7 linked regions of the Homo sapiens genome follow. The protein of the gene in region 6 purifies or fractionates together with the protein of the main gene of each other region. This does not show direct contact. Each region holds a gene or a part of one and is shown on either strand. Other genes may lie near its edges.

Region 1 (3,500 bases), on a different chromosome or scaffold from region 6:
TGTTTTAAACAGCTCATTCTTGGCTGAAAGACATTGCCTTTTTCAGGCAATAAAACCAAAGCTGCTCTCTGTGGGGAAGAAAATGGACCTTTTTAAAAATTTTTTTTAAATGAAGCTTCATCAATTAAAAGAAAAAGAGAAAGAATACTAGACCACTGTGTATCTGCGCATTTAACATCAAGAACGCTGAAGGAGTCCGCATGAGGGCTGAAATGCTGAAACTGCCAAAGCCGGGGTCCCCACCTCTCTGTGTAGGATGCAATCCTGAGCACCTCTCCCAACCCGGTGGTCACTGTGGGGGTGAGGGAGAGCAGAGGGGCAGCCCCAGGTGTCCCTGAGGGGGAAGAGCAGAGGGACCTGCCATGCCCTGCGTTTCCTTCACAGAAAGGCAATAACCACACCTCACTGCAGCAAATATTGACTGCCTGCCGCATAGCTCAACCCTCTGCAAACATGGCAGCGGAGGCCCGCATAGGCCAGCTGGCCTTCCAGCCGGTGCTGCTCACTGGTCTGCAGGCTCCTAGTATGGCAGCAGCGTGGGAAAGAGCAGACGGGAGTGACAACACTGAGGAAGCAGAGGTGGCGATAGTAACAGTTAGCTGGCACTTACTGAGTGCCAAGCATGGTTCTAAGGGTTCCTCTTGCATGACCACATTTATTGAATGCTCACCACAGCTCTAGCAGGTACTACATTATTGTACCATTTTACAGACTGGAGAGCCAAGGCATGGACAGGGTAAGTGACTGGCCCAAGGCTACGCAACCAGCAAGTGGCCCCAAGCCACTGCTGTTTAACACCCTGGGCCACAACATGGAAACTTCCAGAAAACAGACAAGAAAAGCCTCTGAAAGAACAGGCAGCCTTTCCCACAGTCCCAGGCTCCCAATGGCTCTGCCAACAAGTCCTGGAAAATCCACCTTCAGAGTCACACCTGGCTTTCCCTGCCACATGCTACAAGTCACAAGGTTCCTTCACACAAGTGTCTTAACCAAGCCCTGCAGTGACCCCAGCAGAAAGGCAGGACAAGCTTTGTGAGGATCCCCGATAGATCCAGGAGAAAACCAAGTCCAGAGGGGCCAAGAGACTTGCTCCAAGATGACGAAAACAAGGCTGAGGACACACACATACGCACACGCCAAGCACTGCTTGGTGGGCCACCCTGCCCCTCCACAAACTGGAATTTAAAGCACGTGACTACCTGCAGCTCGGCTTTGCTCTTCCTGGAGCTCCTTCGGACAGGGTAGAAATCCGTAAGTTTGCGATTCTGTTGCGTTTTTCCTTGAGCTCTGGGTAAGAGGGGAAGAGGAGAAAATAAATATCAGGACTGAAAACCTGGAGGCACACAGCTCCTTAGAAGGCACACACCGAGGAGGCACACAGCTCCTTGGAGATGATGTCACTTAAACACCTTTGTCCACTGGAGCCTGCAGGTCACTCAGTCACCTGCCCATGAGGGCCTCAGAGGAGTTTCAAAGACGGGCTGCTGGCTGGGCGCAGTGCCTCATGCCTGTAATGCCAACACTCTGGGAGGCTGAGGCGGGAGGATCACTTGAGCCCAGGAGTTCAAGACCAACTCAGGCAACACAGCAAAACCCCGTCTCTAAAAAAAGGAAAGAAATTAGCCAGGCATGGTGGTGCACACCTATGGTCCCAACTACTCGGGAGGCTGAAGTAGGAGGATCACTTGGTCCTGAGAGGTTGAGGCTGCAGTGAGCTACTGCACTCCAGCCTGGATGACAGAATAAGACCCTGTCTCAAAAAACACAACAGTCGGGCATGGTGGTTCACGCCTGTAATCCCAGGACTTTGGGAGGCTGAGGCAGGCAGATCACGAGGTCAGGAGTTTGAGACCAGCCTGACCAACATGGTGAAACCCTGTCTCTAATAAAAATACAAAAATAAGCGGGACATGGTGGCATGCACCTGTAATCCCAGTTACTCAGGAGGCTGAGGCAGGGGAATCGCTTGAACCCAGGAGGTGGTGTTTGCAGTGAGCCGAGATCGCACTATTGCACTCCAGCCTGGGCAACAAGAGACTCTGTCTCAAAAAAAAAAAAAAAAAAACACAAAACACCAATCACCAAAAAAGACAAACAAAAAAAATAAATTTAAAAAACAAAGGCTGCTTATGCTGGGGTGGGTAAGGAGGGGAGGAAGGAGAGGCTCTTGAACTCTGGACCCATGCCAGATCCAGAAACTGACAAACAGTGGCATCCCTGCTGATGACTCGGGGCATCTGAGTCTTTGACATGAGAGAGGCTGAGAGGTGGCCACTGAACCCCCATGGGCACCTGAGCAGGCTTCCCTGGCATCAGAGGAACCAAACTGCTCCACGTTAGGAAGAGGACTGAATGGGGCACTTACTTTTTTCGGGGGGCCTGTTTGCCCTTGATGGGCTTTTTCAGGGCTTGCTTGGCGATGGCTGCATTGGTGGAATCACAAGATGAGGGTGGAGTTTTTGGAGGTTCTGCTGCTTCAGATTTTTGGTTTGGAAAAGGTACCAGGGGACCTTTCCTGGCGTCTTTGATCTTCTGTTCCTCGGACTTCATGGCGCTCCGTACTGCGTTCCCAGCATTTCTTTTCTCTGCAGGCGGAGGTGGGGGAAAGACGGGTTTATTCTGTACTGTCTCTCAATTTCCAGACGACCAGCTGCATTCTAAGACAAGCTTTGAGAAGACAGGATCCTGGGTTTGTCAGGCAGGAGTGCCCTTGGCCTGTTAAGCCCCGTGTCCGCTATGGGCTATGACAGGGGGAGTGCCTAGCTCCAGCTCGATTTTTTGACCAAGACACTGGGCAGAGGTTTTAGGCTTTTGCATCTTGACGTGGGAGATAGAGAGCCTGTGAGGGAGAGGCACCAGAGACGGAGACGCTGGCAGGGTGCTTGATCAATAGCTTTCAGGAATCAGGTTGCAGACTCAGATCAAAAGCTCCATTCCTGAAGGCTGGGACAGCATTAGGGGACAGGAGTAAGGTGACAAAGCAGAAACTCTTCCCCAAGAGCTGCCTGGCACCCTTCATTTCAGACTCCGAAGAAAAAGAAGGTCCCCTTCTAGTGGGGTTGAAGCCCCAGGTTCACAGCAGTTCTCAGCATGGTGCCCCAGCAGACTGGCCTGGGTATCGGGAGACACACTGCAATGATCTGTCACTTAAAACACTTGTGGAGTGACAGTGTTGGAAAACTGCTTACCTTTTTAAAAAATGTTTTACTTTTAAATAACTAAGTAAATAGGCTGGACACAGTGGCTCCTGCCTGTAATCCCAGCACTTTGGGAAGCCGAGGCTGGCGGATCACCTGAGGTCGGGAGTTCAAGACCAGCCTGGCCAACATGGTAAACCCCATCTCTACTAAAAATACAAAAATTAGCCAAGTGTACTGGCGGACACTTGTAATCCCAGCTACTCAGGAGGCTGAGGCAGGAGAACTGCTTGAACCTGGGAGGCGGAGGTTGCAGTGAGCTAAGATCATGCCATTGCACTCCAACCTGGGCGAAAGAGTGAG
Region 2 (3,500 bases), on a different chromosome or scaffold from region 6:
TCTGGGAGAGAATAAACAGTGGAGAGATCTGTCTTTAAAAATATAAACGTACTCTCGGCCGGGCACGGTGGCTCACGCCTGTAATCCCAGCGCTTTGGGAGGCCGAGGTGGGTGGATTGCTTGAGGTTAGGAGCTTGAGACCAGCCTGACCAACATGGTAAAACACCATCTCTACTAAAAAAAAATACGAAAATTAGCCAGGCGTGGTGGCACATGCCTATAATTCCATCTACCCGGGAGGCTGAGGCAAGAGAACTGCTTGAACCCAGGAGGCAGAGGTTGCAGTGAGCCGAGAAAAGGAGAGGCTGAAAAAAATAAATAAATACAAATAAAGAAAAGGAGAGGCTGGCTGGGCACGGTGGCTCATGCCTGTAATCCCAGCACTTTGGGAGGCCGAGGCGGGTGGATCACAAGGTCAGGAGATCAAGACCATCCTGGCTAACACGGTGAAACCCCATCTCTACTAAAAATACAAAAAATTAGCCGGGTGTGGTGGTGGGCGCCTGTAGTCCCAGCTACTCGGGAGGCTAAGGCAGGAGAATGGCATGAACCCGGGAGGTAGAGCTTGCAGTGAGCCGAGATCACGCCACTGCACTCCTGGACGACAGAGCGAGACTCCATCTCAAAACAAACAAACAAAACAAAACAAAACAAAATATATATATATGTAGTCTCTCACAGTGACGTGTCTATGACTGTGTCTAGTAAAGCTCAGGAAGAAAGAATAGCAGTTAACATTGTTTATAAAGACTTATCAAATGTAACCCTTCAAAATATTTTATCAAATACTTATCAAATGCAACCCTTCAAAAATATTTTAAAGGATGTACTAACAATCAATTCCTGTAGTACAGTTTTACTTTCTGCTGCTAATGATTGTTCTTTTAGTATCATATTAAAAATCTGAGAAACATGAGTAGACACATTTTCTGGAATAGATGTGAGAGATCCAAGTGCTACTGTAGTAATGGTATCTAATGCAGAGACACTGGAAGACAGCAGATTACCTATAACAAACAAAAACAGAAAGATGTAAACTTTGACATAAATATATTAAATACCGTTCAAACCATTTCAAAGAAGTTGACAAAAGTATACCCTTGTTGTAGAATTTGTAATAACGAGCTTAAAAGAACTGGCTCACTACAAAGCAAGGAAATATTTAAATATACATTACAATTTTCTATAGTGCTCTGTAAGCCCTTAACATATTTGTAAGTGTATCAGACCCATAACTATAATTCATAGTACACAAAGAATTAGAATATTCTACAATTAATCTCTAACTAAAAATAATATACAGAATTATGGTAAGTTTACAGAAGAAAAAAAAAACTGGAAATCAATACCAAAAAGTATAGTGCTTGGCTTAGTGAGACTAGAGTCTAGATGATTTTTTAAATTTTTATATTTCTGAATGTCCAAATTTTCCATAATGAGGATAGTATTTCACACTAAATAAACATACTTTTTTCTAAAGGGAGATAATAGTTAAAAACAATGAGACACAAACATATTCTGACAATATAGCAAACCATCAAGATATATATGCCCCCCCCAAAAAAAGTTGCAGAATGTTTATGCACAAAAAATTTCCAGAAAAAGGCCCAAGAAATTTAACAATAACACCTATGGTCAATGACCCAGGGTCAGGAGCCGGAGTCAGGGAAAAAGAGGACTTCTACTTCTAACGTTTATATACTTAGTTACTTAATAAATGTAACATTTTATAGAAAACAGAAGGGAGGGTGGGGAGGGAAAAAAGATTTGTTTTAATTCAAAGACAATAAAAGCATTAATCTTCACCCTGAACAAATAGTTTGTGCATGGTAGAGAGTATTGGTGACACCGTCATCTATGTTTCACAAAATTATCAGTTTTGAAATCAACATTACACTTAACACATCAAGACTAGAACAGAACAGCCTGAACTTACCAAATAAGGTCTTATGTACTTCTAGCATGGCCTTTTGCTTTGAGCTGCCATCCTTAATTAATTCTTCCATATTATTAAACAGACTATTCAGGTTTTTGCCAAAAATATCCTGAGCTTCTGCATTGTGTTGGTCAACTGCCTTCTTACGATCCAGTTTGGAATGGAGACCAGATACATCTTTTGTAGTTTCTTCAACTGTGTTAAGCAGCTATATTTTTAAAAATAAGTGTTAGACAAAATGGATACGGTGAAAGGAATCTGATGAAAGTATCTACACAAGGATTTATCTTGATAAGAACTAGTAAATTTTCCAGCCTGGCCAACATGGTGAAACCCCGTCTCTACTAAAAATACAAAAATTAGCTGGGTGTGGTGGTACATACTTGTAGTTCCAGCTACTCAAGAGGCTGAGGCAGGAGAATTGCTTGAACCTGGGAGGTGGAGGTTGCAGTGAGCCAGAGATTGTGCCACTGCCACTCCAGCCGGGGTGACAGAGAGAGACTCTGTCTCAAAAAAAAAAAGTCAATTTTAGACATTGTATCAGAAGAAATGCTTTAACTCATGCTAATTTATCCAGATGCCCAGTAATGTTTATTTCCCTTCCTGTAGCCATCTACACAAGCAAGGAAAACTGATTTTTTCAGTTATTGCAATAATTATGCTTCCTCAGAAATTTTTTTCCTTCTATGTTCTACTATTTCCTCAGAAGTACACCTAATGGCCGGACGTGGTGGCTTACACCTGTAATCCCAACGCTCTGGGAGGCCTAGGCAGGTGGATCACCTGAGGTCAGGAGTTTGAGACCAGCCTGGCCAACATGGTGAAACCCAGTCTCTACTAAAAATACAAAATTAGCTGGGTGTGGTGGCAGGCGCTTGTAATCCCAGCTACTTGGGAGGCTGAGGCGGGAGAATCGCTTGAACCCGGGAGGCAAAGGTTACAGTGAACTGAGATGATGCCACTGCACTCCAGCCTGGGCTACAAAGCAAGAGTCTGTCTCAAAAAAAAAAAGTACAACTAATAAAAAATTAAAGGCCGGGCGCGGTGGCTCACGCCTGTAATCCCAGCACTTTGGGAGGCCGAGGTGGGTGGATCATGAGGTCAGGAGATCGAGACCATCCTGGCTAACAAGGTGAAACCCCGTCTCTACTAAAAATACAAAAAATTAGCCGGGCGCGGTGGCGGGCGCCTGTAGTCCCAGCTACTCGGGAGGCTGAGGCAGGAGAATGGCGTGAACCCGGGAAGCGGAGCTTGCAGTGAGCCGAGATTGCGCCACTGCAGTCCGCAGTCCGGCCTGGGCGACAGAGCGAGACTCCGTCTCAAAAAAAAAAAAAAAAAATTAAATACTTTCAACATCTTTCATCATCAGAACATACTAAATTCTTTTTTTTTTTTTTTCTGAAACAGAGTCTTGCTCTGTTACCCAGGCTGGAGTGCAGTGGCATGATCTCGGTTCACTGCAACCTCTGCCTCCTGGGTTCAAGTGATTCTCTTGCCTCAGCCTCCTGAGTAGATGGGATTATAGGCATGTGCCACCACGCCTGGCTAATTTTTGTATTTTTTT
Region 3 (3,500 bases), on a different chromosome or scaffold from region 6:
GAGAGAAAATTAACCTAGTATTAATAAAATAATCAATTTACTCCCTAAATTCTCTTATTTGGAAATTGTTAACTTGAACACTATTGTAAGTAAATATTAAATTTTGTTTCACCTTGAATTAACCCTTAGGGCTGTGTTTTGTCAAACATTTCCAGTCTAAAATGCATCTGTAAGTTGAGGACATATAAGTCCTTCTTGGACTATATCAGTAACCTACACTTCCAAGGACCTCACCATCTGCTTTATCATGGTTATCAGTATTTCTACCCTCTTGGTTAATAAATTTACAGAATGAAGTCAACAGACAGTAAAGACATCTTTGCAGCACCCTGGGGTACTTGCATTAACAAGGAACTAATAGGGAAAGGTGATTTGGTAACCTTTGAGTCTTGAATTTTCCAAAAGGCAAGGAAATAAATATATGGAGTCTAATAAAGAACATGAAAGCTGAGGTTCTAGACTCTTTACCTGGAAGAAAAGAGGCCTGAGGAGAAGGCTGTGATATCACCAGGCAGCTCAGAGCATCACAGTATGCCATGATCCGGCAGTTTCCTGCCTGAGATACTGTGAAGGTCTTTTGGAAGTGGTACTTGTGCTTGTGCTGGCCCTGGCTGGAGGGTGAGCAGCTCAGGACCCATGCTTGGGAGCCCCTGGGTTGCTGTAAATTCTGACTTTGATGTGACGTAAGTTTTTGCAAGTCCTAAAATGAAAAAGATTTTATAAATACAAAGCTTTTTAATTTGATATTCCCCTCAAATACAATTCCTTGATCTTTTACAGGAAGATTTTTTATCCATTATATGAAAGTGTTAACATGAATCCTAGAGAACTGCAGAGTTTTTGTTTTTTTTTTTAAGACGGAGTCTCACTCTGTCACCCAGGCTGGAGTGCAGTGGGACCATGTTGGCTCACTGCAACCTCCATCTCCTGGGTTCAAGCACTTCTGCCTCAGCCTCCTGAGTAGCTGGGATTACATGCACCCACTACCATGCCCGGCTAATTTTTAAATATTTTTAGTAGAGATGGGGTTTTACCACGTTGGCCGGGCTGGTCTTGAACTCCTGACCTCAGGTGATCCACCCGCCTCGGCCGCCCAAAGTGCTGGGATTACAGGCGTGAGCCACCGCGCCCGGCCAGAACTGCTGAGTTTTTACAGTATTTCAACAAGCAAGTGAAATAAGGAGAGCACAGAATCATAATATGAGGGTTGAAAGTCCTTAATGGTGGTTTCGTTTAAAGTCCTTTAAAAAAAAAAAAAAAAAAAAAAACAACTTAAAAGGAGACAGGGTCTCACTCTGTCATCCATGGCATCCAGGCTGGAGTGCAGTAGTGCGATCACAGCTCATTGTAACCTTCAAACTCCTGGTAAAGCCCTCATTTTACTAGTAGATTTAGGAAGGTAAAATTACTTAAACAAGTTTGGAATTCTTGGTTGGCTATTTAATTTTTTCTAAAATTCAGATTGTAAGGCCAGGTGCAGTGCTCACGCCTGTAATCCCAGCACTTTGGGAAGCCAAGGCAGGCGGATCACCTGAAGTCAGGTGTTCAAGACTAGCCTGGCCATCATGGTGAAACCCTGTCTCTACTAAAAGTACAAAAATTAGCTGGGCATGGTGGTGGGCTCCTGTAATCCCAGCACCTCGAGATGCTGAGGCTGAGGCAGGAGAACCGCTTGAACCCAGGAGACAGAGGTTGCAGTGAGCCGAGATCACATCACTGCACTCCAGCCTAGGTGACAGAGTGAGACTCTGCCTCAAAAAAATAAAAAATAAAATTCAGACTATAGTAGACCTCATCATAAAGTGTGTAGTAAGTTTTGAACAGATGCCCTAATCAGAAATAAAATAAGGAGTTGGTCATGTTCATTTCCTAAACAACTTGGCAAATCCTATTTGTTTCTGAGATGAACATAACTAACATTAGCTTCCTCTTCCATTCCTATTCCAAAAGTTCTTTGGATTAGAAAGGACAAACGTACCTGAACACGCCTTTGAAGCCTAGTGCACTTATCAGTGAGGACCTGCAGTTGGAGTCGGCACTGTGCTGATTCTAACTCGGCCTGTTTCCTTAGCATCTGTTCCTTCAGTAGGGAACTAGAGGGGGAAAGCCAGCAACAAGTGGGGATTAGGAAGGCTACAGAAGACTTCCCATCCAGGTGGCAGAGTTAAGTTCATGCTATGATGCACGTTCTTTGCTGTAAATATGTTATGATAGTGAATAAAATATAAAAAGAGAAAAATCTCTCCAGAAACAGGTTTTAGGGTAAGCAGGGAGTGATGGTCAGGAATTTGACTATTACTAGAAAATGGGGACTAAAAATGCCACAGGCAAAACGAGAGAACAGAGCTAATCTAGTGTTCAGCTACGGCAAATTGTAAAAGATTAAACTGACATGTTAAAAGGCCAAGGTTACTGGATTAAAAAGGAAACAGTAAGCTGTTGGTTGTTCATGAGATACTCAAATAATATAACCCAAAAAAGAATCTGAAGTTAAAAAGAGCAAAAGTAGACATCAAGCAAATATTAACAAAGGAAAGACCAATTAGAATTAAGGAAAAAGCATAAATAGGCATAACGAGGAACAATGTATCATAAAAGGACACATTCACCAAGAATAACAAATATATATTTGTATGTACCTAAAAACAGTCTCAAAATATGAAATGCAAAGACAGAATTCCACTCCAGTAAGATATGCAAGAAAAAGATGAAAATTGGAAAAGATAAAGCTGCCCTTATTAATTTTTATGGCAAATTTAAGAGAACCCCCAAAACAATTACAGTTTAGCAACGCTGCTGGACTCAAGACCAAAAAAATTAGATCAACAGCAGTCCTCATCAGATAACTGATTAGTAAATGTAATTTAAAAAATTCATTCACAACAATTTTAACAGCAATCTAGAAATACAGTCATGTGCAGCTTAATGATGTGGGCATGTTCTGAGAAACATGTTGTTAGGTGATTTCGTCATGTAAACATTACAGAATGTACTTACAGAAACCTACACAGTATAGCCTACTACACACCTAAGCTATATACTGTTGCTCCCAGGCTACAAACTTGTATAGTATGTTACCATAATGAATACTATAGGCAATGGTACTATAATGGTATTTATGTATCTAAACATAGAAAAGGTAATGCATTGAGCTAAGACTTTTTTTTTTTTTTTTTTTTTAGCCCGAGTCTCACTCCATTGCCTAGGCTGCAGAGCAGTGGCGTGATCCAGGCTCACGGCTACCTCCGCCCCCCGGGTTCAAGAGATTTCTTGCCTCAGCCTCCCAAGTAGCTGAGATGACCGGCACCTGCCAACACACCCAGCTAATTTTTGTATTTTTAGTAGAGACAGGGTTTCACCATGTTGCCCAGGCTGGTCTCAAACTCCTGGCCTCAAGTGATCCACCTGCCTCAGCCTCCCAAAGTGCTGGGATTACAGGTGTGAGCTACTACACCCAGTGCGCTAAGCCATTTCAATGATTACAACATCACTTACGCAAC
Region 4 (3,500 bases), on a different chromosome or scaffold from region 6:
CCAAACAGCCTCCCGATTCAGAACCATTTTCCACTTTTTGTAAAACAAAGTAATGAAGAGTGCCAGCTGAATCCCACTTGTCTGTGTCTAAATCCTGCCTACACCACCATCTCTGGTACCTACTTTCAAAGATATAATCCTGCCCCCTACCCAGCATCATAGAACAATCTAGAGCCTTGTTTCGAATAGTCACACTCCTTCCTCCAGGAACAGTCACCAGCCCCTGCACTTAAACTTCCAGAGGATCTTGACTGACATATTCCTGAAGAGTTATGTGTCAAAGGAACTGTGGCACCCTTGAACAAAACTTCAACATCCTTAGGGGACCCCACTCAGTAACAGACTGAATAGTGAATTTTTTTAAAAAAGAGAGAACATTCCTTCATCACGATTATAAAACCATTTCTCCCATACCAAATTATGATTCTTGCCATTTTAATTTTCAGAGGTGGGGTTAGCATACAATGAGATATACCTGTATCTTGGGATCTGGCCCCACCACCAGGACCAGACCAGTTGTTGGGTATAAGGGGGCTGGAGGGATTCATTTGTGGCTGTTGCTGGGGTATTATTGAGGCCTCTTAACTTGCTAACCTCTGGATTCTCCCCATGCTGACATTTGATCTTTTTTTTTTTTTTTTTTTTTTTTGAGACAGAATCTTGCTCTGTCGCCAGGCTGGAGTGCAGTGGCGTGATCTTGGCTCACTGCAACCTCTGCCTCCTGGGTTCAAGTGATTCTCCTGCCTCAGCCTCCCAAGTAGCTGGGACTACAGGCACGCGCCACCACGCCCAGCTAATTTTTGTATTTTTGGTAGAGATGGGGTTTCACCATGTTGGCCAGGATGGTCTCGATCTCTTGATCTCGTGATCCACCCACCTTGGCCTCCGAAAGTCCTGGGATTACAGGCGTGAGCCACCGTGCCTGGCCTTGTTCATTCTTTCTAAACACTGCTCCACACAGATCACTCCACCCCTGCACAGAAACCTTCAATAGCTCCCCATTGTCTATGGAATAAAGTTCAAGGCCCTCCACCTGGCCTTCAAAGCCTTCCACAATCTGCCTCATGGCTTTCTTTTCCTCTAGGAACTCACACTAACCCTTTAGGTCTAGATCACGAGTCCACCCATAGGCTGGCACCTTCAGTGAAGATTTGCTGTTGCATTGAGTTTGACTGATCCCAAGTCCTCAATATGCAGATCAAGAGATCTAAAGTTCTACTCAGATAATTAGAGGTCACTTGGCTGTGAATCATGGCACTTGAGAACTGAAAGGTTGTCGCCTTTGCCTAGTCCAATACCATCAATTTGAAAAGAAAGACTCTGAGGAACAGAGAAGTAGGGTACTTGCTTCTGGTCACAGACTCAAACTCAGACTATGGTCAGTGGCTGAACTGACACTAAGAACCCAAAGGCCAAAGGGTTTCTGGAGTACAGAAGAAATCAGTCTTTGGTTTTCTCAGGCTTTCTCAGGCTTCAAGCACCTACCCATGCAGAACATGAATCCTCTTTTTAGAGAGCTTTAGAAAGTCTGGTAGCCCTTTCCCCACAGAACCAGACAAGACACTGAGCAGCCTACAGGGTGCTCTCTGCCAGTGTACCCTAGGACCCAGGTGGTCTAAGGCCTGCAGAAGAGAGAGCAGAGGAGCTGGGTGAGGGAGCTGTGGCAGTGGTAGAAGAGGAGGTGGTTGTGATTCTGTACTTTGCAGGCCCAAATGTGGACTGCAGACTCAGTCTGTAATAGGGTGGAGGTGAGCCAATGAAGTGTCTGTTTTTGCAGCGTGTGTGGTAATAAGAGCCAAACCTTGTAGGCTTAGCCTCACTGCCTCTGTTATTCAGGCTGGACAAGCACAAGCCCCATGGCAGTGACAGGTGAGGTTGTTAAAGAGGACATCTAGACATGCACAGAATCTCCCCAGACCAGTGACAGAATCTCAGGTTTGGAAGGGACCTTGACAGTCATTAAGCCCCAATTCTGACCAAAGCTTCAGTCCTCTTAACAATGTCCCTATTCATGCCTTTGTTGAATGGCCACAGTTACAAGACAGGAAGCTCCACTGCCATTGCAACCATTGCAACGTGCTTTCTGCCTGTGTGGGTCCTCTCATCTACTGGCACCTGCTGGGTATCCCCATGGGTAAGGTCCTGAATGCTACATCTTTTTAAACCTCTTCTCCATCAAAACCTACTTGACCTGCGTCTCATCAGGGTACCATTTCCTGTGGTAGCTCTTCTCCAAAAGTAGCTCCAACAAGCCATGCCTTTTGACACTCATGGCTTCGTGTAGTTTCCTCCCACAATGAGCCAGGGCTGGCCTGTAACATGCTCTAACCAACAAGATGGGGCAGAAGTGATGCTCTGCCAATCTGGGGACAAAGCCTTCAGAAGGCCTGGCAGCTTCCACTTTAGTGCTTCTGGGAGCCCTAAACTGCCACGTAAGATGTCTGGCTACCCTAGAGACACCATATGGAGAGGGAGAGTCTCTGAGTCTCCATAGAGTGAGAGAACAGTCCTGTTGTCCCAGCATGCCAACTGAGTCCAGGGTTCCAGCCACCTGCCACAAGGTCCCAGACGTGTGTGAGCTATCCTGATCACCCCAGCCTAGTCTGGCCCCCAGATGACTGCAGCCCAGCTGACATCACATGGAGTACAAGACCCACCCACTGAACCCACAGAACCCTGGGAGATAATCATCAAAGCCCTATGTTATAGGTGGTTTGTTAGACAGCAATAGATAACTACAGTAGTTACTATGAGCACTTTGGCACAGACTAGTTCCTCATTGGTTTGGGTGGTGTCATTTGGCAGAGATGCTTGACTCTTGGGTGATGAAACCTCCTAGAGACAGTGTCCTAACCCAAAGGTGTCCCCTAGTAGTGGGACACCAGGCACCATGCAGGGCCAGCAGGAGATATTTCTGAGTACTGGATCCTCTCAATGCCCCAATCTCATCTCACAGGCTACATACTTAAATTTTTTAAGGACATCCATTTTTCCTGCATCACAAGGGCCATGAGCTATCTCCCTTATACCCGTAGACAAAGGGGAGGCAGATTCCCACCCAGTGGGGGCAAGAAGGAAGTAAACACAATTAAGGATACCATTTTTGAGACTCAGGTTCTCACGAATCTCCTCATGGTCGCAGGGATGAGTGAAGTCAAAGATACTATGTCCTGTTAGCTCCACCTGTTTCAAAAACAAGGTTAGGCATCATTATTCCTAACAGTGAAGTAAAAGACTCCAAGAGTAAGCTGAGCCACCTTCCAGATTTGGAGGCAGGGAGGAGACTGAATTGGGTTTTCTCATAATCCCAGTCCAGTGTCAGGTCCACAGACAGAAAGATGTAATCGGGGACTACTGATGATGACAGAGACTTGGTCTGTTAATGAGTCAGTAGAGAGCTGTCTACCAGGATGGACATGAGCAAAGCCAAACCCAATGCTTGGGGGTGGGAGCGTGGCCTGAGGCGTGTGGCCTGAGGTCAGCGAGGGTCACCGTGGGCA
Region 5 (3,500 bases), on a different chromosome or scaffold from region 6:
ATCCCAAAGCAAGCCCAGTATCTAATAAGAGCGACCTTTTGGCCTCCTCCAATTATATGGCATTAATATCCATTACTTTTAAACAAGCAGAATACTAAGACCCATCGAATTGTCATGGCTAGTGCTCATACCCTCTCACTCTGTCCTACTGATACATCTATACAAAAACACATTCATCTGATCCAGGGTTCAGAACTACTATTCCCCGGCCTTGCCTTCTAACAACACCCTTTCCTTGGCCCTTTGGATCTAGCTTCTCTGGTTTCATACTCACACTCTCCCCAGCTCAACCCAATCCTGCCCTGCCCCCCAGACCCAACCCAGCTCAGCTCTTCAGGTCTGAGGTGTGGAGTCAACAAATAATTAAGCATACCATAGATAATCTGTCATTTAACAAAATAAGGCTGTTACCTGCAACATTTCTCTTCTTTGTTTTCACAGCACGTTTTAGATTTTCCATGATTGTTCAAAATTTCCTTTTCGATGTGAGAGAAGGATAGCCGCCATGTTTCTTCTTAATTTCAAAAAGAAAAACAAAAAAGCACTTTACCCAAAGCATCCATATCTAAACAATATTCAAGTGGTTTCCCTCATGAAAATATCCTGGGGCTGGGCATGGGGGCTCACGCCTGTAATCTCAGTACTTTGGGAGGCCGAGGAGGGTGGGTCACCTGAGGTCGGGAGTTCGAGACCAGCCTGACCAACATGGAGAAACCCATCTCTACCAAAAATACAAAAAAAAGTTATCCTGGCATGGTGGCACATGCCTGTAATCCCAGCTACTCGGGAGGCTGAGGAAGGAGAATCACTTGAACCTGGGAGGTGGAGGTTGCAGTGAGCCGAGATTGCACCATTGCACTCCAGCCTGGGCAACAAGAGCAAAACTCCATCAAAAAAAAAAAAAGAAAGAAAGAAAAAGAAAATATTCTGAAAAAATCTTAGGAGTGAATCAAAAGAAGTGAACAGATAAATAATTATGTATAAAAATAAGTACACTGAGACAAAAAATGGGCCTAACCGAAAAAAAAAGGAAGTCACAGTTTAATATAGTTAGCAATAGTAAGATGTATTACCTTTTATATATTGCTAAATTCCCTTTGTTAAATATTTTGTTTCAATAATAATTTGAATCAATTTATTCACTTTTTCTGTACCATCCTTACAGGTTTTATATTAATACAAAATGAATTGGGGACCATTTCCTTTATTCTTATTTATGAGAGTTTGTGTAAATATAGAATGATTTCACCTGGGCGCGGTGGCTCACGCCTGTAATCCCAGCACCTTGGGAGGCCAAGGTGGGCGGATCACAAGGTCGGGAGATCAAGACCATCCTGGCTAACACAGTGAAACCCTGCCTCTACCAAAAATACAAAAAATTAGCCGGGCGTGGTGGCGGGCGCCTGTAATCCCAGCTACTTGGGAGGCTGAGGCAGGAGAATGGCGCGAACCCGGGAGGTGGAGCTTGCAGTGAGCGGAGATCGCGCCACTGCACTCCAGCCTGGGCAACAGCACAAGACTCTGTCTCAAAAAAAAAAAATTTCTCCCCGAGTCTTACCATGGCTAGCTCTTTTATGCTCTGACCACCCTGTTACTTCGTGGTTTTATACTAGCAAAGTATAAGTAGTTTATAATCTGAATGATTTTTCAGAAAAATCAATCAATATAATCTGTCACATTAACAGAATAGAGGAGAAATACATGATTGTCTCAATAGATGAAGAAAATGAAGCTCTTAAAATCCTATAGTCGTTCATCATTAAAAAAACACCTCTTAGCAATCTAAGTCTAGATGGACACTTGATTCCATAAAAGGTAGATTTTAGAAAACTATAGCAACAATCATTATGTGAGGTAAAAAGTTGGAGAGAGAAATCAGAAAGAAGGCAAAACATCTGCTATCTCTATTTCTGTTCAACATGCACTGGGTGTCATAGCAAGCACAGTAAGGGAAGGAAAAACAGGGTTACACACTGGAAAGGGAGAAACAAAGCCATCATTATTCATAGGTGATGTAATTGCATATATAGGAAATACAAAAGAATCTACAATGCTGGGCATGGTGGTTCACGCCTGTAATCCCAGCACTTCAGGAGGCCGAGACAGGAGACCAGCCTGGCCAACATGGTGAAACACCATATCTACTAAAAATAGAAAGATTAGCTTAGCCAGTGTGGTGGCGTGTGCCTACACATACCACATGTATGTATGTATTTGTATATAGTCCCAGCTACTTGGGAGGCTGAGGCAGGAGAATCCCTTGAACCCGGAATGCCGAGGTTGCAGTGAGTCGAGATCACGCCACTGCACTCCAGCCTGGACAACAGAGCGAGGCTCCATCTCAAAAAAGAAAGAAAATGAAAAAAGAAAAAAAAAATTATGTAAATAAACTCACCAAATCAATTAAAAGAGTTACCAAGATTGTGGATACAAAAATCAAAGGTATTTTGATATATGGTAATAAACAAAAAATGAAATTTTGAGAAAGATGTTACTTACAATAGTATAAAAACTAGCAATTAGGCCAGGTGCAGTGGCTCATGCCTGTAATCCCAGCACCGTGGGAGGCCGAGGTGAGCAGATCACCTGAGATATGGGGTTCAAGAGCAGCCTGGCAAACATGGCGAAACTCCGTCGCTACTAAAAATACAAAAATTAGCCAGGCATTGTGGCACACAGTTGTAATCCCAGCTACTCAGGAGGCTGAGGCAGGGGAATCGCTTGAATTCAGGAGGCAGAGGTTGCAGTGAGCCAAGATCATGCCATTGCACTCCAGCCTGGATGACAGAGTGAGACTCAGTCTCAAAAAACAAAAACAAAAACAAAAAACAAACAAAAAAAAACACCCAACAGTTACCTTCTAGATCTAACTGCTAATGAAATATGGATGAGGCCAGGCACAGTGGCTCACTCCTGTAATCCCAGCACTTTGGGAGGCTGAGGCGGTGGATCACCTGAGGTCAGGAGTTCGAGACCAGCCGGACCAACATGGTGAAACCCCATTTCTACTAAAAATACAAACATTTAGCCGGGCATGGTGGCACAAGCCTGTAATCCCAGCTACTCTGGAGGCTAAGGCAGGAGAATCACTTAAACCTGGGAGGCGCAGGTTGCAGTGAGCCAAGATCGGGCGATTGCACTCCAGACTGGGCAACAAGAGCAAAACTCCCTCTCAAAAAAACAAAACAACAACAACAACAAAAAGAAATATGGATGAAAGCAGAACATGCTAAACGACACTTCTAGAATGCACTCTACAAACTCTCTTTGGGAAACTCTACAGGAAAAATAACCTGTTTCTTCAATGAGTAAATTGAAGTAAATTGAGTAAATTTTATTCAAGGAATAAAAAAGTTATGAAAGAGGAAGTTATGAGTTAAAAGAGATTTAACAGACATATTGGTCAGTCACAATGTATGAACCTTATTTGAATCCTGATCCAAACAGACTGATCCAAACATACAAAAAAAGTATGACACTTACAAGACAAGCGGAAATTT
Region 6 (4,234 bases):
TCATCATTTTCATTTTGGATGCATGCTCTTTTCTGAAAATGCCAATATCCAATGCCACAGAAAACAGAAAACTATCCCCTCAAAATAAAAACCCAGAATCAGGATTTTCGAATTTACAATTCAACCTCATAAAGGGTAGAAGATGAAATTCCCCTCATCACAATATCTGACAATATCTTTAGGGCATTAAGTTTAGACAGACCCTCCTTCCAACACTCACACACACATACACACACACACACACACACACACACACACACACACACACACATCCCATCACCCAAACAAGCAAACCTTGAATGAAACTTACAGTTTGGAGAGCTGTTCTGGGTGAGTGGATGATAATTCTTTTTTCAGAAATGAGATCTTGCTATGTTGCCCAGGGTGGTCCCAAACTCCTGGCCTCAATCGATCCTCCAGCCTCAGCCTTCCAAAGTGCCTGGATTAGACTCCATAGCGCCTGGAGGAGAATGATGGAAGTTGAGTCTGACAGTGATTATGATGTTCCGACCTTTTATTCCCAGGTGGCTCCACCCATATCACGGGTTTTTCCAGGAAATACGTTTCTTGATTAACTTATCTCTGTGTAAGAGTTTAAAATATTTGTCTAGAAAAGGCTAGATAGTGACTTATTTTACTTTATTTCAATTGGTAATTAAAAACTTTTATTTAGAAATCATTGCAAATATACATAAGAATTGCAAGATTAGTAGAAATAACTTATATTCCCTTCACCCAAATTTACCAATTGTGTATATTTTGCCACATCTGTCTGCTTTCTCTCTCCCTCTTTTGATGTTCTATGTATCTATCTATCTATCTATCTATCTATTTTTTAATAGAGACAAGGTCTTGCTATGTTGCCCAGGTCTCGAACTCCTGACCTCCAGTAATCCACCCGCCTCAGCCTCCCAAAGTGCTGGGATTACAGGCTTGAGCCACCATGCCCAGACATGTTCAAGTCCCTTATATAACAGGATATACTTTTACTCCACTTAATGTTTACCTGTTTTCTTTGTAGTAACCGTGCTTTTTGTTTTATATATATATAATTATATATATATAACATATATGTATATATATAACATATGTAAGTACATATAACATATGTAAGTATATATAACATATGTAAGTATATATAACATATAAGCATATATAACATACATATAAGCATATATAACATATATAAGTATATATAACATACATATAAGTATATATATAACATATATAAGTATACATAGCATATATAAGTATATATAGCATATATAAGTATATATAACATATATAAGTATATATAACATATAAGTATGTATAACATGTATAAGTATATATAACATATATAAGTATATAACATAAGTATATATAACATATAAGTATGTATAACATATATAAGTATATATAACATATATAAGTATATAACATAAGTAGATATAACATATATAAGTATATATAATATATAAGTACATAACATATATAAGTATATAACATATATAAGTATATATAACATATATAAGTATATATATAACATATATATCCTACATTTTCAACACGTGTAACAAATGTGGATAGTTTCAAAAAGATCATTTTACGTTCTAGTAGTTACCCTGTTTGACCAAAGTGTAGTACTTTTATTTTTCTATTGCAGTGCATTTTCTTTTTTTTTTTTGGCGGGAGGTGAGGGAGCGGAGCGGGGATGGAGTCTCACTCTGTCACCGAGGCTGGAGTTTAATGGCGTGATCTCGGCTCACTGCAGCCTCTGCTTCCTGGGTTCAAGTGATTCTCCTGCCTAAGCCTCCTGAGTAGCTGGGATTACAGGAGCCCGCCACCACGCCTGGCTAATTTTTTGTATTTTTAGTAGAGACGGGGTTTCGCTATGTTGCCCAGGCAGTCTCGAACTCCTGATCCGCCCGCCTTGGCCTCCCAAAGTTCTGGAATTACAGGAGTGAGCCACCGTGCCCGGCCTTTTTTCTGTTTTTTTTTTTTTTTTTTTTTTTTTGAGACGGAGTCTCTCGCTCTGTCGCCCAGGCTGGAGTGCAGTGGTGTGATCTCGGCTCACTGCAACCTCCACCTCTGGGGTTCAAGTGATTCTCCTGCCTCAGCCTCCCCAGTAGCTGGGATTACAGGCACCCACCATCATGGCCAGCTAATTTTTGTATTTTTAGTAGAGACAGGGTTTCACCTTGTTGGTCAGGCTGGTCTCAAACTCCTGACCTCAGGTGATCTACCCGCCTCGGCCTCCCAAAGTGCTGGCATGACAGGCGTGAGCCACCGACCCAGCCCTTTTTTCTTTTATATAGTTTTTGAGACAGGGTCTTGCTCTGTTGCCCAGGCTGGAGTGCAGTGGTGCGATCATACCTCACTACACCCTCGATCCCCAAGGCTCAAGTCATCCTCCAACCTCTGCCTCCTGACTATCTGACACTACAGGCGTGGGTAATTTTTAAATTTTTTTGAGACATAGTCTCACTTTGTTGTCCAGGCTGGAGTGCAGTGGCATGATCTCAGCTAGCTAATTTTAAAATTTTTTGTAGAGATGGGTGGGGGGAGGGTCTCACTATGTTGCCCAGGCTGGTCTCCAACTCCTGGGCACAAGCGATCCTCCCGCCTCGGCCTCCCAAAGTGCTGGGATTACAGGCATGAGCCTGGCCAGCATTTTCTGTTTGAATGTTTTTACGTAACCGGAGTCGTCATGATGGAGGTACAGTTCCTTGGACTTCCGGCTCCCATGGCTCTGGAAATCTCAGCTCGGACCCGCCCCTTCCGGCGCCGACTCCCCTGATTCTCCTGGGAACAGAAGAGTTCTGGGCACAGCACGCTGCGTCTGCGCAGTGCCGGGCGCAGGCCTCCCGACCTACGGGTCTAGGTACGGGCTCTAGCGTGGCCGGGGCACATAGAGTTCCTGGCCTAGAGCTGGTGGGGCGTAACGGCAGGAGTTAGGGTTCAGAGAAAACCAGCCCAGGGGCGGGTTCATCCTGTTACCCATTCAGCCTCAAGCGAGGTGGGGTGTGGTAGGTGGGCTGGTGCTAGAAACCACGCCGGGAATTGTTAATAACAGTCATCCCGGCCGGGCGCGGTGGCTCACGCCTGTCATCCCAGCACTTTGGGAGGCCGAGGAGGGCGGATCACCTGAGGTCAGGAGTTTGATATTAGCCTGACCAACGTGGCGAAACCCCGTCTCTACTAAAAATACAAAAATCAGCCGGGCATGGTGGTGGGCGCCTGTAATCCCAGCTACTCGGGAGGCTGAGGCAGGAGAATCGCTTGAACCCGGGAGGCGGAGGTTGCAGTGAGCGGAGATGGCGCCACTACAATCCAGCCTGGGCGACAGAGCGAGACTCCGTCTCAAAACAACAACAAAACCCCCAAAAAAGCGGTCATCCTCCAGGTGGAAGAGACAGAAGAGAGGGTGCGGAAGAGACTTAAAAGTCTTAGGCCTTCAAGCGTGTTTGCCTCAGCCACCCGTGAATCCTACAGGAAAACTAAAACAACTCGGCCACAAGCCCCCAAGTCTTGGGGAAGCGGACGGTTTCCCAGCCGAGCTTTAGGAGGAGGCGCCGCGGGACCTCACGGGTGACGTCGTCCCCGGGGGTAGTTTGCGCAGAGGGTCGCTTTGGGCGCGCTTAGAGTCGCGTGGTGCCTGGGCCAGCGAAGCCCAGGTGCAGTCATTTGTGGCCCTGTCCCGGCGCGCGAGGGGCCAAGGCTGGTCGGGGGCCGGGTCCGCGCGGTAGCAACTGCGTCCTGCCAGCTTCCATCTCTCCCTCTGAGGGCCTGAGCGGCTGCCAGAGTCAGGTCTGCAGGCCGGGCGCTCACGCGTCTGTGCCCAGTGAGGCCCCAAGATGCTGGTGAGGCCTCGACCCTGACTGGTGTCCAGGCTCTTGACACTGTCGTGAGAAGGAATTCATGGATGAGCAGAACAAAGTGTGGAGATTCATTGCGACGGGAATAAGTACGTACTGAAGAAAGAAAAGTGCAGGCATACCACAGAGCATCACGCCCAGCGGGGTTTGGAGCTACCTTTAAATATTTATTTAACCAAGGGGTGGAATATTCATGAAGATTCTTGGAAAAAGGTAAACATTTCTTGGTACTGCGGTGCCACACATTTTTATACTAAATACGGGTGTTCCCCAGAGCTGTCACAGTGGGTGTGTGACTTAGTATGTTAATGAGCACATAATGAGAGGTCCTAGGTGAAACGGGTCGAATCCAGCACCATGTTGGGTCCAGTCGGCTT
Region 7 (3,500 bases), on a different chromosome or scaffold from region 6:
GAGGTGGAGGCTGCAGTGAGCCAAGATTGTGCCACTGTACCCCAGACTGGGTGACATGGCCCACAGACCAAGACCCTGTCTCAAAAAAAAAAAAAAAGCTTTTTTCCAGAGCCATCTTGCTGTCCTCATATATTTATTCTCCTAGATGAATTGTTGCTTAAGCAACAATGAAGTTTAAATTGTTCTTCAGATAGAACCCCTAGGTGCCAGGCAGTTTGTTAAGCACTGACACCGCAGTCCTGTGACTTTCATGACGACCTGTGACCTGTGGGAGGTAGAACACCTCACCCACCCGTGGGAGCCCCTGGAGTGACTGACAGGAACCCCTGCCTCACCCAGCTCCCCGCGCCGCGGCTCTCCCCAGCCCTGGATGCAGGCGCCCAGGAGACATGTATTGCTTTTGTTGAGCTGCTCACTTAGGAGGGTGACTCAGAGTTCAAGCTGGAAAGCACTGGCTTGTGACTCATGAGCCAGTGCAAGATCAAACGGCTGGGGCATCGAGGTGAGAGTTTTCCTTCTCAGAAGCCTCATCTCCGCAGCCGGAAGCAGAGCCCTTGGCTGACTGGAAAAACCAGAGAGGCCCCGGGAGTGGGTGGATGGCCAGCCCAGCCCCACCTCTCAGCCTCAACCTCCACCAGCCCACACCGAGCTTGTTTGTCTGTGTCCTGTCGAAACTAGGACTCCTGGATTGTAACTTTTCTTACATTTCCCTGTCCCCTGGGTCCTCCACTTAGGGTGTAATCACACAGACAGGCTCTTAACTGTTTCATATCACTCACTTGGGAAAGTGTCTCAAGCTGTTCTACAAATCCATGCAAAGGCCGTTTAAAAATAGCAGCGAAGGCCCTGGACTCGGTCTCGTCCAGCACAGCCCCTTGGCTCTCTCTCTGGGCTCTGGCCGCCTGGCCCCCGGGGACCCACACGAGGTCATGGCGTGCTTCGGGCAGGGGGGCGGGGATCCCATAGACACCTCAGCTCCTTAAGAGTTCTCCGCCTGGGCCAGGACGAGCATGGGGGTCCCCACTGATGCCCGAGACGGTGCCCCTGTGTGTGTGAGCCCTCGACCCACATAACAGAGAGGTGTCCTGATGCCCTCTGTCCTCTCCAGGTGGATCTAGGATCCGGCTTCCAACATGTGGCAGCTCTGGGCCTCCCTCTGCTGCCTGCTGGTGTTGGCCAATGCCCGGAGCAGGCCCTCTTTCCATCCCCTGTCGGATGAGCTGGTCAACTATGTCAACAAACGGAATACCACGTGGCAGGTAGGCTGTGGGGCTGCGTCCTATGTATGTCCCCTCCCAGGTCGGTCTGTGCACACTGACTCCAGGAATGGGAAGCCAGCCCTCACTGTGGCCCACAGAACATTGTCCTGGACTGTTGAAAAATGGCCCTGACCCTGAGTCATGTCGGCTCTGGACCACGCCTCCCTCCTTTGTCCCATACCCCACGTGTGTGCATGAGTGTGTGTGCATGTGTATGAATATATGGTTGTGTGCACGTGGAGGTGTGTGGGGGAGTAAGTGAGCTTCGGAAGTGTTCAAAACCAGCTAGCCCCTGTGACGCCCGCCGTGGCACAGTGGCAGTTTATCAGTCCCGCCCCTGATTCCCTTTGTCTCTGCCCAGCCCTGACCCTCGGACTGAGAACCAAGAATGAGGAGTGAGCCATGTTGAGGGCTGGAGAGGGTCTCTGATTGTCAGCAAATGGGAGCAGATCAGGGGAGACACCCACTCTGCCCGTGTGTCACTCTGGGCTGTTCCCCAGTGCCCCCCAACCCTTGGGCCCTTGAATTGGGTAGGGTCTCTGGTTTTCCCTGGGTTGGGCTTCGTGTGTGGGCAGCGTGCCCATCCACCGCCATCCCGGGAGACCCTTCAGTCAGTGGGTGACTCTCTTCCAGGCCGGGCACAACTTCTACAACGTGGACATGAGCTACTTGAAGAGGCTATGTGGTACCTTCCTGGGTGGGCCCAAGCCACCCCAGAGGTGAGTGCCTGCTCCTCTGCACCGCTGTAATGTGAGTGGCAGGCGTTGGTTTGGGGCAGTGGGAAGTGGGAGAGTGAAGGCCTCTCTGGCGTCCGCAGGGCTCATGCTGCCCAGGGCTGCCGACACCGCTTGAGGTACAGTACTTGTTTCTTTTCATTTTTATATTACTTTCTCTTTTTATTTTATTTTTTCCTTCTCAAGTTATTAGTAGAGAAGATGCTGGTGCTTTTTTTTGGTTTTTGAGAGAGTCTCACTCTGTCACCCAGGCTGGAGTGCAGTGGCACGATCTTGGCTCACTGCAAACTCTGTCTCCCGGGTTCAAGCGATTCTCATGCCACAGCCTCCTGAGTAGCTGGGGCCACAGGCTTGCACCACCGTGCACGGCTAATATTTGTATTTTTAGTAGAGACTGGGTTTCGCCATACTGGCCAGGCTCGTCTCGAACTCTTGGCCTCAGCAAGTCATCTGCCCAACTCGGCATCCCAGAGTGCTGGGATTACCGGCATGAGCCACCCCCAGTGTTTTCTATTGTGCTTCTCCAAGGTGTCTCAGCCGCAGATGTGACAGACAAGGTCTGGGTCCCCACTATGTGGGCAGACTCAATCTTGAGTAATTTAAGGGAAATCTAAGAAAAGCCAGATGAGGCCAAGTATGGTGGCTCACGCCTGTAATCCCAGCACTTTGGGATGCCAAGGCAAGCGGATCACCTGAGGTCAGGAGTTCGAGACCAGTCTGACCAACATGATGAAACCCCGTCTCTACTAAAAATAAAAAACTTTGCCAGGCGTGGTGGCGGGCGCCTGTAATCCCAGCTACTCGGGAGGCTGAGGCTAGAGAATCGCATGAACCCGGGAGGCAGAGGTTGCGGTGAGCTGAGATGATGCCACTTCCCACGTGAGGATGGGGTAGTTAAGTTGCACGACACTGCCTTCTGCACAATGGGGATGATATGAGAAATGATGAGAGGATCCTGGGCAGAGGTTGAGGCAGGAGAGCAGGGCAAGAAACACTATCTGGACTGAATAAACTTATTTAAAAATGAGTTTATAATTTGTGGATAAATTCATCTTAAAAAATCCATTACATAAGCCTAGAAAGAAGCGTACAATATCGCAAGTCAGGCCAGGTGTGGTGGATCATGCCTGTAATCCCAGCACTTTGGGAGGCCAAGGCAGGCAGATCATTTGAAGCCAGGAGTTTAAGACCAGCCTGGCCAACATGGTGAAACCCTGTCTTTACTAAAAATACAAAAATTAGCCGGGTGTGGTGGTGCATGCCTGTAATCCCAGCTACTCAGGAGGCTGAGGCACGAGAATCGATTGAACTCAGGAGGCAGAGGTTGCAGTGGGCAGAGATCTCGCCACTGCACTCCAGCCTGGATGACACAGTGAAATTCTGTCCACTCCCACCCTCCCGTCCCACCCAAAAAAAAAATCAAAAGGTGCATTGAGCAACAGAATTTCCTTTTGTTTTATGAAATTACCAAGGACACCTGTCTGCAGCCTTCTTCGGCATGTCTTGT

Evidence for each region.
Region 1: the proteins of USP29 (region 6) and KMT5A purify together in Homo sapiens (affinity purification with western blotting; one study listed by BioGRID). This does not show direct contact.
Region 2: the proteins of USP29 (region 6) and KIF11 purify together in Homo sapiens (affinity purification with mass spectrometry; one study listed by BioGRID and IntAct). This does not show direct contact.
Region 3: the proteins of USP29 (region 6) and RFWD3 purify together in Homo sapiens (affinity purification with mass spectrometry; one large-scale study listed by BioGRID and IntAct). This does not show direct contact.
Region 4: the proteins of USP29 (region 6) and EPAS1 purify together in Homo sapiens (affinity purification with western blotting, with the first as the bait; one study listed by BioGRID). This does not show direct contact.
Region 5: the proteins of USP29 (region 6) and CGAS purify together in Homo sapiens (affinity purification with western blotting; one study listed by BioGRID). This does not show direct contact.
Region 7: the proteins of USP29 (region 6) and CTSB purify together in Homo sapiens (affinity purification with mass spectrometry; one large-scale study listed by BioGRID and IntAct). This does not show direct contact.

What each region holds. Positions count from the first base shown.
Region 1 is NC_000012.12:123,394,132-123,397,631, reverse strand, and holds part of KMT5A (N-lysine methyltransferase KMT5A), read right to left. Parts: intron 2,586-3,500; coding exon 2,366-2,585; intron 1,288-2,365; coding exon 1,200-1,287; intron 1-1,199. UniProt on the Homo sapiens protein: Protein-lysine N-methyltransferase that monomethylates both histones and non-histone proteins. Specifically monomethylates 'Lys-20' of histone H4 (H4K20me1).
Region 2 is NC_000010.11:92,631,130-92,634,629, reverse strand, and holds part of KIF11 (kinesin-like protein KIF11), read right to left. Parts: intron 2,145-3,500; coding exon 1,937-2,144; intron 1,008-1,936; coding exon 835-1,007; intron 1-834. UniProt on the Homo sapiens protein: Motor protein required for establishing a bipolar spindle and thus contributing to chromosome congression during mitosis. Required in non-mitotic cells for transport of secretory proteins from the Golgi complex to the cell surface.
Region 3 is NC_000016.10:74,635,878-74,639,377, forward strand, and holds part of RFWD3 (E3 ubiquitin-protein ligase RFWD3), read right to left. Parts: intron 2,094-3,500; coding exon 1,979-2,093; intron 701-1,978; coding exon 469-700; intron 1-468. UniProt on the Homo sapiens protein: E3 ubiquitin-protein ligase required for the repair of DNA interstrand cross-links (ICL) in response to DNA damage. Plays a key role in RPA-mediated DNA damage signaling and repair.
Region 4 is NC_000002.12:46,356,407-46,359,906, reverse strand, and holds part of EPAS1 (endothelial PAS domain-containing protein 1), read right to left. Parts: intron 3,184-3,500; coding exon 3,099-3,183; intron 1-3,098.
Region 5 is NC_000006.12:73,428,298-73,431,797, forward strand, and holds part of CGAS (cyclic GMP-AMP synthase), read right to left. Parts: intron 515-3,500; coding exon 412-514; intron 1-411. UniProt on the Homo sapiens protein: Nucleotidyltransferase that catalyzes the formation of cyclic GMP-AMP (2',3'-cGAMP) from ATP and GTP and plays a key role in innate immunity.
Region 6 is NC_000019.10:57,118,551-57,122,784, reverse strand, and holds the start of USP29 (ubiquitin carboxyl-terminal hydrolase 29), read right to left. Parts: upstream 2,801-4,234; 5' UTR 2,556-2,800; intron 461-2,555; 5' UTR 311-460; intron 1-310.
Region 7 is NC_000008.11:11,851,088-11,854,587, reverse strand, and holds part of CTSB (cathepsin B isoform 1 preproprotein), read left to right. Parts: intron 1-1,108; 5' UTR 1,109-1,133; coding exon 1,134-1,259; intron 1,260-1,892; coding exon 1,893-1,978; intron 1,979-3,500. UniProt on the Homo sapiens protein: Thiol protease which is believed to participate in intracellular degradation and turnover of proteins. Cleaves matrix extracellular phosphoglycoprotein MEPE. Involved in the solubilization of cross-linked TG/thyroglobulin in the thyroid follicle lumen.